Regions from separate parts of the Homo sapiens genome. Here region 1 is linked to region 2. Evidence: fine-mapped expression QTL. A gene starts in region 2. The other region holds a variant in brackets. All regions are shown on one strand. Distances are between the middles of the regions. Region 1 overlaps HFE (homeostatic iron regulator). Region 2 holds the start of H3C2 (H3 clustered histone 2).

Region 1 (5,379 bases), 58 kb before region 2:
GATGCCAGATCCCCTCTGCCCCTCTTCCCACTGTGCCCTGGGGCAGAGGTACTAAGAGACTTCCCCCTTGTTCCTACTCACTTGAACCCTGCCTCTTCCTTAATATTATGAACAAAATTCCAATGAACAAGATGACGACAAAAACAGCAATTCCACTGATGACTCCAATGACTAGGGTGCCAGACGGTGAGGGCTCTAAAACAGAAAAAGCAAGTTAAAGCCTTTGATTGCCACCCTCAGCCCACCCCCTAACAAAGAGCAGATCCTCATCTCACTGCCATAATTACCTCCTCAGGCACTCCTCTCAACCCCCAATAGATTTTCTCAGCTCCTGGCTCTCATCAGTCACATACCCCAGATCACAATGAGGGGCTGATCCAGGCCTGGGTGCTCCACCTGGCACGTATATCTCTGCTCTTCCCCAGGGGGTACAGCCAAGGTTATCCAGCCCTGGTAGGTCCCATCCCCATTGGGCAATACGTCTTTAGGTTCGAACTCCTTGGCATCCATTGGCTGCTTATCCTTCAGCCACTTCATGGTGATGTTCTGGGGGTAGTAGTTCAAGGCCCGACACCGTAGAGTGGTCACTGAAGAGGTCACATGATGTGTCACCTTCACCAAAGGAGGCACTTGACAGGAAAGAGGAAGGATGAGGAGAGGGGATCTGTTTACCCTTGCCAGGAAGACTGGAACTTTCACTTCCTTCTATAGGTTGGAGGAAGGAAATACCCTTTTCAGAAAAAAACAAGCTACAGGAGAGACACCATTTTGTGTCCTAAGATTGGACTCTAACACAGTGTCACTTGGAGAGCAGTCAGATCAGCTTGTTCTCCTCACATGTAAATATACATATCTGTTACCCATGTTCTTTGTTCTGATAGATAAAATTGCCCTTTATGTGCATTGAAAATGATTGAATACAGATGGTCAGTTTCACCTGGGTCAACCTAGGAGGCATTGTTATAAGAAGCGGACTTGTAAGATAGGTAGCTTCAGTGATTATTGCTATGTTCTATGAAAGAAACTTTTAACCTAAAGGATTCTTCTACTCTGATAAGTGGCCTCACTTGATATTTTGTCCTGGTATTCATATGATAGCTGAGATCTCTGAATTCTCTTTTTTTTTTTTTTTTTTTTTTTAAGATGGAGTCTCACTCTGCTGCCTAGGCTGGAGTGCAGTGGCGCGATCTTGGCTCAGTGCAACTTCCGCTTCCCAGGTTCAAGCGATGCTCCTGCCTCAGCCTTCCAATTAGCTGGGACTACAGGTGCGCATGACTGTGACCAGCTAATTTTTGTATTTTTTTAGAGACGGGTTTCACCATGTTGGTCAGGCTGGTCTCAAACTCCTGACCTTGTGACCACCCGCCTCGGCCTCCCAAAGTGCTGGGATTACAGGGGTGAGCCACCGTGCCCGGCCTTGACATTTCTGAATTTTTAACAGGTATAAATATACAAAAGATTATTGGTTAAATAAAAAGCAAGGGCCATAGACACTTCCCTTTGAGCCATATGCATGGAGAAAAGAAATTAAACCCATGACTTGTGGCTGTCTCATACATCTCAATTATAAGGTAGAGACTCTAGGATTGAGAAAGTCCCTTCCCAGAATTTGGAGAGGCACACAGCCTCAGCCACCTCTGAAACTCCAACCAGGGATTCCGTGCCCTGCAACCTCCTCCACTCTGCCACTAGAGTATAGGGGCAGAAGTGTGTTTCCACCATACCTTGTTGGTCCAAAACACCTCTCCCCAGCTCCAGCAACTGCTGCAGCTGTGCAGGGCAGTCCCTCTCCAGGTAGGCCCTGTTCTGCCTGGCCCGAATCTTGTGCCTTTCCCACTCCAGCTTGGTGGGCCAGGCCCTGGGTTCTGCTGCTCTCCAATCCAGTGTGTCAGGGCAGAATTCAAGGTGGTCCTGCCCATCATACCCGTACTTCCAGTAGCCCTCGGTACTGTTGTCTTCTTGCATTTCACAGCCCAGGATGACCTGCAGGGTGTGGGACTCTGGAAAAATCCCCAGCCTTGTTAACTGCAACCAAAGGAATAGGTCCCTATTTCCACCATCCCCAAGGACCAAATGATCTCAGGAAGCAAATTCCTTCCCTCTTCCCTGCTCCCACAAGACCTCAGACTTCCAGCTGTTTCCTTCAAGATGCATGAAAAGATGAAAAGCTCTGACAACCTCAGGAAGGTGAGGCCCCCTCTCCACATACCCTTGCTGTGGTTGTGATTTTCCATAATAGTCCAGAAGTCAACAGTGAACATGTGATCCCACCCTTTCAGACTCTGACTCAGCTGCAGCCACATCTGGCTTGAAATTCTACTGGAAACCCATGGAGTTCGGGGCTCCACACGGCGACTCTCATGATCATAGAACACGAACAGCTGGTCATCCACGTAGCCCAAAGCTTCAAACAAGGAAAGACCAAGGTCCTGCTCTGAGGCACCCATGAAGAGGTAGTGCAGAGAGTGTGAACCTGGAGACAGAGCAACAGGCCTTAACCATGTGTAGTAGGAGGGGAGCAGGATGTTGAGGCTCCACACACCTGCATCAACTCATACCATCAGCTGTGTCTGGTCCTCATTTTGTGAAGGGTGAGTTGCAGTCCTGTCTTTCTTCCATATGACAGTCCTGGGTGCTCTTTCCTTGTGTGCTTTTCTCTGCCACACGTGGCTGCCACCCCCTCACTGCCCCCAGATCCTATTCCAATACTCATGATTAGACAGACTCCACTAAAGCTGGTGGATTCTAGAAAATGTTAAGGTGTGTCTAGCCATGGTAGTTGAACTCAGGAGTTGGTGCTCAGGGCAAATTAGACCCAAATCCTGAGGAATAATTCCTTCAGTTTTTTTTTTTTTTTTTTTTTTTTTTTTTGAGACAGAGTCTCACTCTATCACCCAGGCTGGAGTGCAGTGGCACAATCTCAGCTCACTGCAACCTGCACCTCCTGGGTTCAAGGGATTCTCCTACCTAAGCCTCCTGAAAACCTGGGACTATAGGCGTGCGCCACCACACCAGGCTAATTTTTGTATTTTTAGTAGACATGGGGTTTCACCATGTTGGCCAAGCTTGTCTCAAACTCCTGACCTCAA[A/G]TGATCTACCTGCCTCAGCCACCAAAGTGCTGGGATTACAGAAGTGAGCCACCGTGCCCAGCCTTGGTCCTGAATTCTTACACTGAACTGCCTATGTGGCCTCACCACTTGGAAGCCTGACTGGAATCTCAAACTTAACATGTCCAAATGCAGATCCTTGATTTACCCCAAACTGCTCTTTCCTCTGCCTTCACCATCTCAGAAATGGCATTGCCAATTACCCCACTGCTCAGGCCAATAAAATTAAAATAAAGAACAAAGTCAACTTTAACTCTTCTCTTTTTCAGGGGGTCAGGGGAGACAGGGTCTTGCTCTGTCACCTAGGCTGAAGTACAGTGGCACAGTCATGGCTCACTGCAGCCTCAACTTCCTGGGCTCAAGCAATACCCTCCACCTCAGCCTCCCGAGTAGCTAGGATCACAGGTGCATGCCACCACACCCAGCTAATTTTTGTATTTTTTGTAGAGAAGGGGTTTTGCTGTGTTGCCCAGGCTGGTCTTGAACTCCTGAGCTCAGGAATCTGCTCTCCTTGGCCTCCTCCTTGGCATGAGCTACTACACCCAGCCAATTCTTCTCTTTCTCTCACACAACATAGAATCCTTCAGCAACTTCCTTCAGAATATATTCAGGAGACAATGGTTTGTCACTCCCTTTTCTGTTCCCACCCAGCCCACTCCACTACCTCTTGCCTGGACTGTGTAACAGCTTCCTGGCTGGGCTCCCTGCTTTTACTGTTGCTCCCTTCATTCTGCTTTCCACATAGCAGCCAGAGCAATCTTTTAAAAGCCTGTGACAGATCACTGTTACTCCTTGGCTAGAATTCACACCACAGCCTACAGGCGCCTGCACAACCTTGTTTGTGGCTCCTCTTCTGAGCCCATTACCTACTTCTTGGCCTCTACTCCCCAGCACTACTTGTTTATTTTTTTCAACCCGAGCTTCTTAACCAGGAGTTTGTCTACTAGGTGACATGTGGCAAAGTTTAGAGACATTTTTGGTTGTCAAGACTGGGGGAGTGCTCCTAGCACCTAGTGAGTAGGGAGGACAGGATACTGCTAGACATCCTACATGCAGATGGTAGTCCCCCTTCCCACCCCCACGCCGCCCCCCCCCCCCACACACACACACATGAGTAGTGCTGAGAAAACCCGCTTTTTAATCCAACTTGCCAGGCCCACTCAGTTTGCCTGGGAAATACTGCTCCCAGTCAATATCATTCTTATTTCCTTCATGTCTCTGCTCAAGTGTCAGCCCCAGAGTGACTTGCCCTGACTTCTCTGCTTCTCACAACACCCATGATTTCCTGATGTTGTATATCTTTCTGCTCATTTGCTTATTGTCATCTCTCCCACTAGAATGCAAAATATCAAAGGGTAAAGACTTGTTTCCCTGCTCTCTCCCTTGGGGCTTGAACAGTGCAACACATGGCTGGGACTCATTTACACTTGTAAACAATGAATATTTCTGCTCAACATGAAATTTTATTATTCAACCTCTAATGCAGTGTGATGTTTAAGAATCATAGCTATGAAGTGGAGACATGAGCTCTGCCACCAAAGCCCAGTGTACCATTGAATAAATTTGCCAGGAAGCAGGCCGTGCCATGCCTCATTCTTGTCATGTGTAAAATGTGGATACACGTAGTACCAAAACTCAAAGTGCTGTGCTGAGGCCGGCGTGTGACCCACAGAACACTGTGCTACACTACAGGGCAAAATCACTGTCAACTAAGATTAGAAGCAGCTGTAGTACTTGAAATAACATCAGAAAACCAGATTATTTATGTTCTTTGTAACCTGAAAAGAGTTATATAATCTGAATTCCAGTTAACTTCTAGTAAAATAAACGTATTATTAGCTCCTACCTCCCTATGCCTAGTGAAAATCAAATAAGATCAGATATGAATGTAACTTAGAAGTGAGTGCATTGCTTACATGTTCATTATCAGTACTTTGTAGAGAGGCCTCTTAATTACACAGCACATTGCAAATCAATAAAGCCTAGCCGAAAAGAGAATTGTTCAGTTCAAACGTTCAAAACTAACATATACTTAATTTTCCAGGCAAAAGAACAATTGCCAAGAGTGGGGAAAGGCCCGAGGTAGGCCTCTCTCAGGAGCCTCCCACCCTAGAGACCTCCACCCCAGGTCTCACCAAAAGTGGGTGGAATGGTGAAGAATTCAGATCCCCAACGCCACTCTTTCGCGCCCCCACCGCCCAACGCATTCGTTCTGAGGTGGAAACCCCGTGCGGATCCTGCTGTGGGTTTGCTCAGCCTTCTCGGCAAGCAC
Region 2 (5,379 bases):
GAGATTTTAGAATTAAGACTGAAAGATACAGGGGAAATTGCCCATTTTTATGCTTAGGTTCAACAAGATAAACAGCTGTATAGGGTACGATCTAATGCTAACAGACTGAGTGGGGAAGCCCCGCAAGGCTTGTCTGTCAAGATTCTTCTTGACCTCTCAGTGCAGCATTTCTTCCTTCTGGTTATAGGACAAGACTCTCTTTTAGAATGGGGGGTCTTATGACCTACAGGCAAACAAGGTAGGTTAGAGTAATACTTTTAGGTTTTATGGCTGGTTCTAGGGAAAAGGAGTTCTGGTTTGTATGGCCTACCTTGAGGAGGAATTCTGGTTTCTATGGCTAGACTTTGGGGAGAATGGGACTTACAGACAGGAAGGCAGAAGGTGGTCAGTGAAACACTTTTATAATCATAATCCCATTTTGAGTATTTCTGTGTTATGGAATGTTTGTTCTCTCATTTCCTGAAAGATTCCAGAGACTCCTCATTCAGTGTTGTGAAAAAGTTCAGGAAATGCAACTCAAAAATGTGCCACTTTGTTACGCTGATTTCTTTGAACTGAGGGCACCTAGGAAACAGTAAATTCAAGGAAGGGCTTTCGCTGAACTCTAATCAAAAATTTGAAAATTAAAAAAAAATTCAAAAAGGAATTTAGTTGTTAAGATTCACTTCCCTGGGGAATCTCATCAACCAGAGAAGATTAACTGTATCACAGGAGAGGAGACTGGTGGTTAACACCATCTAAACAGACTTTGTCACAGCTGTCACCTATTCTTTGAAACACCCATTTATTTTTCTCCAAAATCATATACTCTCCCCTAAGTTGCCTACATCCCCCTTCTTTCTCCCTTATGAATCAAGAGAGCTTATAAGCTTCTACAGTTCACTGGGATTTGGGGTATTCGCTTTTCTTCCCTCCCACTCCCCCTCCCCTTTTTTTGTCTTTGAGACACAGTCTTCTGGCTCTGTCGCCCACGCTGGAGTGTGGTGGCTCTATGTGAACTCACTGCAACCTCCTCCTCTCGGGTTCAAGCGATCCTCCCACCTCAGCTTCTCGAGTAACTGGAACTACAGGCGTGCACTACCAAGCCCGGCTTTTTTTTTTCTTTTTCTCCCCCGTTTCTTTTTTGGTTATTTTACTGGAGACAGGGTTTCTCCATGTTGTCCACGCTGGTCTCGAACGCCTGACCCGCCGTCCTCGGCCTCCCAAAGTGCTGGTATTACGGGCATGAGCCACTGCGCCCGATTTGAAGGACCTCTTAAATATCTATTTAGAAATTGGTCGGAGTCCACTCCTTTCCAAAAACATGAGTCACAATCCGGGAAAAGCACGAGCGGCTGAAAGTCAAAATAACCAGAACAAAACCTCCACTCATGCTTAAAAAAGGTATTTTGACAAAATCCTAATTCGGCCAATTATTATTAGTATTCAAGTCGAAGGCTCGTCAAGCCAGACTGGGGATTGGGTCAAACATAAACCTTACACCAGACGGAAGGATTACATGCAAATGAAGGATGCAGATTCTGATTTCCCATTGGGTATTTGACATTAGCCAATGGGAGAATTCCTCACAGCCTACCTCCAGTCAGTATAAATACTTCTCTGCCTTGCGTTCTAATGTAGTTTCATTACATTTTCTTGTGGCGATTTTCCCTTATCAGAAGTAGTTATGTCTGGTCGCGGCAAACAAGGCGGTAAAGCTCGCGCCAAGGCTAAGACTCGGTCTTCTCGTGCAGGTTTGCAGTTTCCTGTGGGCCGAGTGCACCGCCTGCTCCGCAAAGGCAACTACTCCGAGCGCGTCGGGGCTGGCGCGCCGGTGTATCTCGCGGCGGTGCTTGAGTACCTGACCGCCGAGATCCTGGAGCTGGCGGGCAATGCGGCCCGCGACAACAAGAAGACCCGCATCATCCCGCGCCACCTGCAATTGGCCATCCGCAATGACGAGGAGCTTAATAAACTCTTGGGGCGTGTGACCATCGCGCAGGGTGGCGTTTTGCCTAATATTCAGGCGGTGCTGCTGCCTAAGAAAACTGAGAGCCATCATAAGGCCAAGGGAAAGTGAAGAGTTAACGCTTCATGCACTGCTGTTTTTCTGTCAGCAGACAAAATCAGCCTAACAGCAAAGGCTCTTTTCAGAGCCACCTACGACTTCCATTAAATGAGCTGTTGTGCTTTGGATTATGCCGCCCATAAAGATGTTTTTGAGGTGTTTTTAATGGCTTTGAGTGTGGCACTTTTAGTAATTTGTCCTGCAGAAATTAGATCCATAGAAACCTCAGGAATTCTAGGTATGTGGGAGAAGTGCCATGCAGCACAAAACATGTTTACAGGGGTGATTCGCGTTAAGTTTCACACACAGCAGTTACTACATTTTAGAGGAAGGAAATTATACCCATGAGTGCATTCCTAACTATCTTGAATGGAAGTGTTAAAACCCGCATGCCCCACACAAGTTTGAATATGTCATACCATTTGCTGTAGCAATTAATGGCATACACAATTGAGAGCACACACATTACCACTGAACATTTGAGTATGTATTTCCCAAAATGAGCTTTTTTCCAGTTTGGGGATGTTTTGCTTTGTTTTGGGGTGGAGTCTCCCTCTCGCCCAAGCTGCAGTGCAGCGGCGTGATAACAGCTCACTGTAACCTCGAACTCGGGCTCAAGCGATCCTCTTGACAGCCTTCTGAGTAGCTGGGATTACAGGCGAGAGCCGCCACGCCCGGCTAAGAGCATTTTTCTAATTGCCCACACTTCTTATGCGACACCCAGAAAAATACAATTTTAAATAAAGCGCATATGCAAATTTCCCTAATCGTCTCCAATATTCTCTGATTTCTTTTTTATATTTTAACTAGAAACAATTGGAGGTTTCCGCGTTGCTTTGTGTGGTTGTAAATTTTAAGACTTCAGGAAACTTTTCCAGTACAAGACTTGTCCACAGTGGATATAGCAGCTAAGGGGTTAACAAAATGACGTCAGAGTAGCTACGGTAATGGGCAGGAGCCTCTCTTAATCTGCAACCAGGCACAGAGATGGACCAATCCAAGAAGGGCGCGGGGATTTTTGAATTTTCTTGGGTCCAATAGTTGGTGGTCTGACTCTATAAAAGAAGAGTAGCTCTTTCCTTTCCTCCACAGACGTCTCTGCAGGCAAGCTTTTCTGTGGTTTTGCCATGGCTCGTACTAAACAGACAGCTCGGAAATCCACCGGCGGTAAAGCGCCACGCAAGCAGCTGGCTACCAAGGCTGCTCGCAAGAGCGCGCCGGCTACCGGCGGCGTGAAAAAGCCTCACCGTTACCGCCCGGGCACTGTGGCTCTGCGCGAGATCCGCCGCTACCAAAAGTCGACCGAGTTGCTGATTCGGAAGCTGCCGTTCCAGCGCCTGGTGCGAGAAATCGCCCAAGACTTCAAGACCGATCTTCGCTTCCAGAGCTCTGCGGTGATGGCGCTGCAGGAGGCTTGTGAGGCCTACTTGGTAGGGCTCTTTGAGGACACAAACCTTTGCGCCATCCATGCTAAGCGAGTGACTATTATGCCCAAAGACATCCAGCTCGCTCGCCGCATTCGCGGAGAAAGAGCGTAAATGTAAAGTCACTTTTTCATCAGTCTTAAAACCCAAAGGCTCTTTTCAGAGCCACCCACTTATTCCAACGAAAGTAGCTGTGATAATTTTTTGTTGTCTTAACAGAACAAATTTCTAAGGACCCCCCCGGAAAGCATTAGACTATGGTCTTAAAGTTGATTAACAGAAATAACGGTTTGGTCAGTCTTGCAGTGTAGGTTATTTCTGACCTTATTAAGGTGCTATTTGGAGAGAAGCTGTGTAAGTCCACTATCATTCAGGCCTCTAGCTTGCTATGATTAGCATTTGTTTAAACAACTTTGTAAGAGTAAGGGAAAAATCTGGTAAGTAGTTAACTGGCGCTTACTAGGCATTTTTGCAAAGCTTTGAAAAGATTAGAAAATTGTGTCTTGCGAGTTCCAGTGTCTTCCTCAAAATGCTTAGGAAGATTTTCTCAGCTCAATACATAGTCCCCTAGGTTTTCTCATATATTATATATATATATATATATATATATACTGTTAAATTCATTTGGCTGTTAACATTAACCTGAAATTTATTCTGGTGCAAAATGTGAGGCAGGGATCTAACTGGCTCTCATTTTATCCATAGCTAGCTACCCACTTTAAATCTGTCAGTCTGTCGACCAAGCATAATTTAATCCCTTATATATGAATTTTTATATGTGTGGCTTTGCTTGTAAATAGTCTATCTGGTTGCATTGCTTTGTCTCCTCTAGGACTATGCACCATGACATGCCACATTCTTTTTTTCAGTACTTCTTGCCTGTAGTTATTAAAATCTAGAATTTACAAGTTTTAACCATTTTCTTTCTGTTGATCTTGCTTTTCGGTTTTGGAGGTTGGGGATTGAGTACTGGAAGAAAATTTAGAGGGATGGGAATACTGTACGCAAACAAAAGTAATATTTACTTTAAAATTTTTATATTTTGTATTTTTTTATCATATAGCTTTTACATCACATTTTACAGACTAACTTTAGAACAACCACAGAATGTCCAACATTAAAACTACTAATTCCAAAGACCTTGCCTCACATTCTTTTTTACAATAAATATTTTTTACACCTAACATTCTTTCTTGGCCTACATCTAGAATGTAAACTGATGTACCATACTAAAATCGCCTGACCAACTGTCAACAACAACAAATCACACACACAAAAGATTAAATTTGAATTGCATCGTTTACTTAAATTCATTTGTGTTCCAGCTTTTAATAAGGCAGTTTTTGGTTTATAAAGTAATATTTGCATTTTAAAAATTATGAAAATGAATATGTCAGTTTGTTTTATGATTCGTTTTTCTTGACTCTTATACAAGCGACTCTAACTGGCATAGACATTTGTTATCCACAGACAGTATAGATATGTTAGAGATGCCAATGGACTTGGTCTATGCCAAGGTGACTACTCACAAGCTCTGGGCCCAGCTGAAGGTCAAGTATTTTTTTTCCAGTTATAGATGTGCTGGATCTGATGTATAGCGCTTGACTTTTTATATTTTCTTTATCTGTAGGAAACAAATGTGTTGGAGGTACTGGGTCTGACGAATAGCATAAAAGAATAAAGTTACATTACTGTCTGAGGATCAGATGGACAGGGGGTGGTAGCTCAGTCCAGCTATTTTCCACTCCCTCACTTACATTCTTTGCCCCCTCCTCAACAGAACAAGGATTCTGCTGTAACTCTTCATTGACAGTTGATATTTAAAAATTAACGAATGGATGAAATTCTCATTTGTGAAAGAAAATTTATTGAGCATTTTGTATTTGTGAGTAGTGCAAACATTTTAAT

What was found.
Region 1: its variant is fine-mapped to the expression of H3C2 in whole blood (INTERVAL, PIP above 0.99).

Annotation. Positions count from the first base shown.
Region 1 is chr6:26,087,935-26,093,313 of GRCh38, reverse strand. HFE (homeostatic iron regulator) reads right to left here. Exons shown (of 6, transcript NM_000410.4): 2 at 2,210-2,473; 3 at 1,725-2,000; 4 at 354-629; 5 at 82-195. It also overlaps HFE-AS1. Among named protein-coding and RNA genes, the nearest start is that of HFE, 3.2 kb to the right of the region's middle. The variant A/G (reference allele first, on the strand shown) is at 3,090.
Region 2 is chr6:26,029,856-26,035,234 of GRCh38, reverse strand. H3C2 (H3 clustered histone 2) reads left to right here and starts at 3,136. Exons shown (of 1, transcript NM_003537.4): 1 at 3,136-3,646. The coding sequence starts at 3,175. The coding sequence ends at 3,585. It overlaps H2AC4 (H2A clustered histone 4), which reads left to right and starts at 1,617. Exons shown (of 1, transcript NM_003513.3): 1 at 1,617-2,143. The coding sequence starts at 1,667. The coding sequence ends at 2,059. RefSeq lists enhancers at 700-759, 1,090-1,139, 1,180-1,239, 1,543-2,172, 3,110-3,229 and 1 more and a silencer at 1,660-1,759.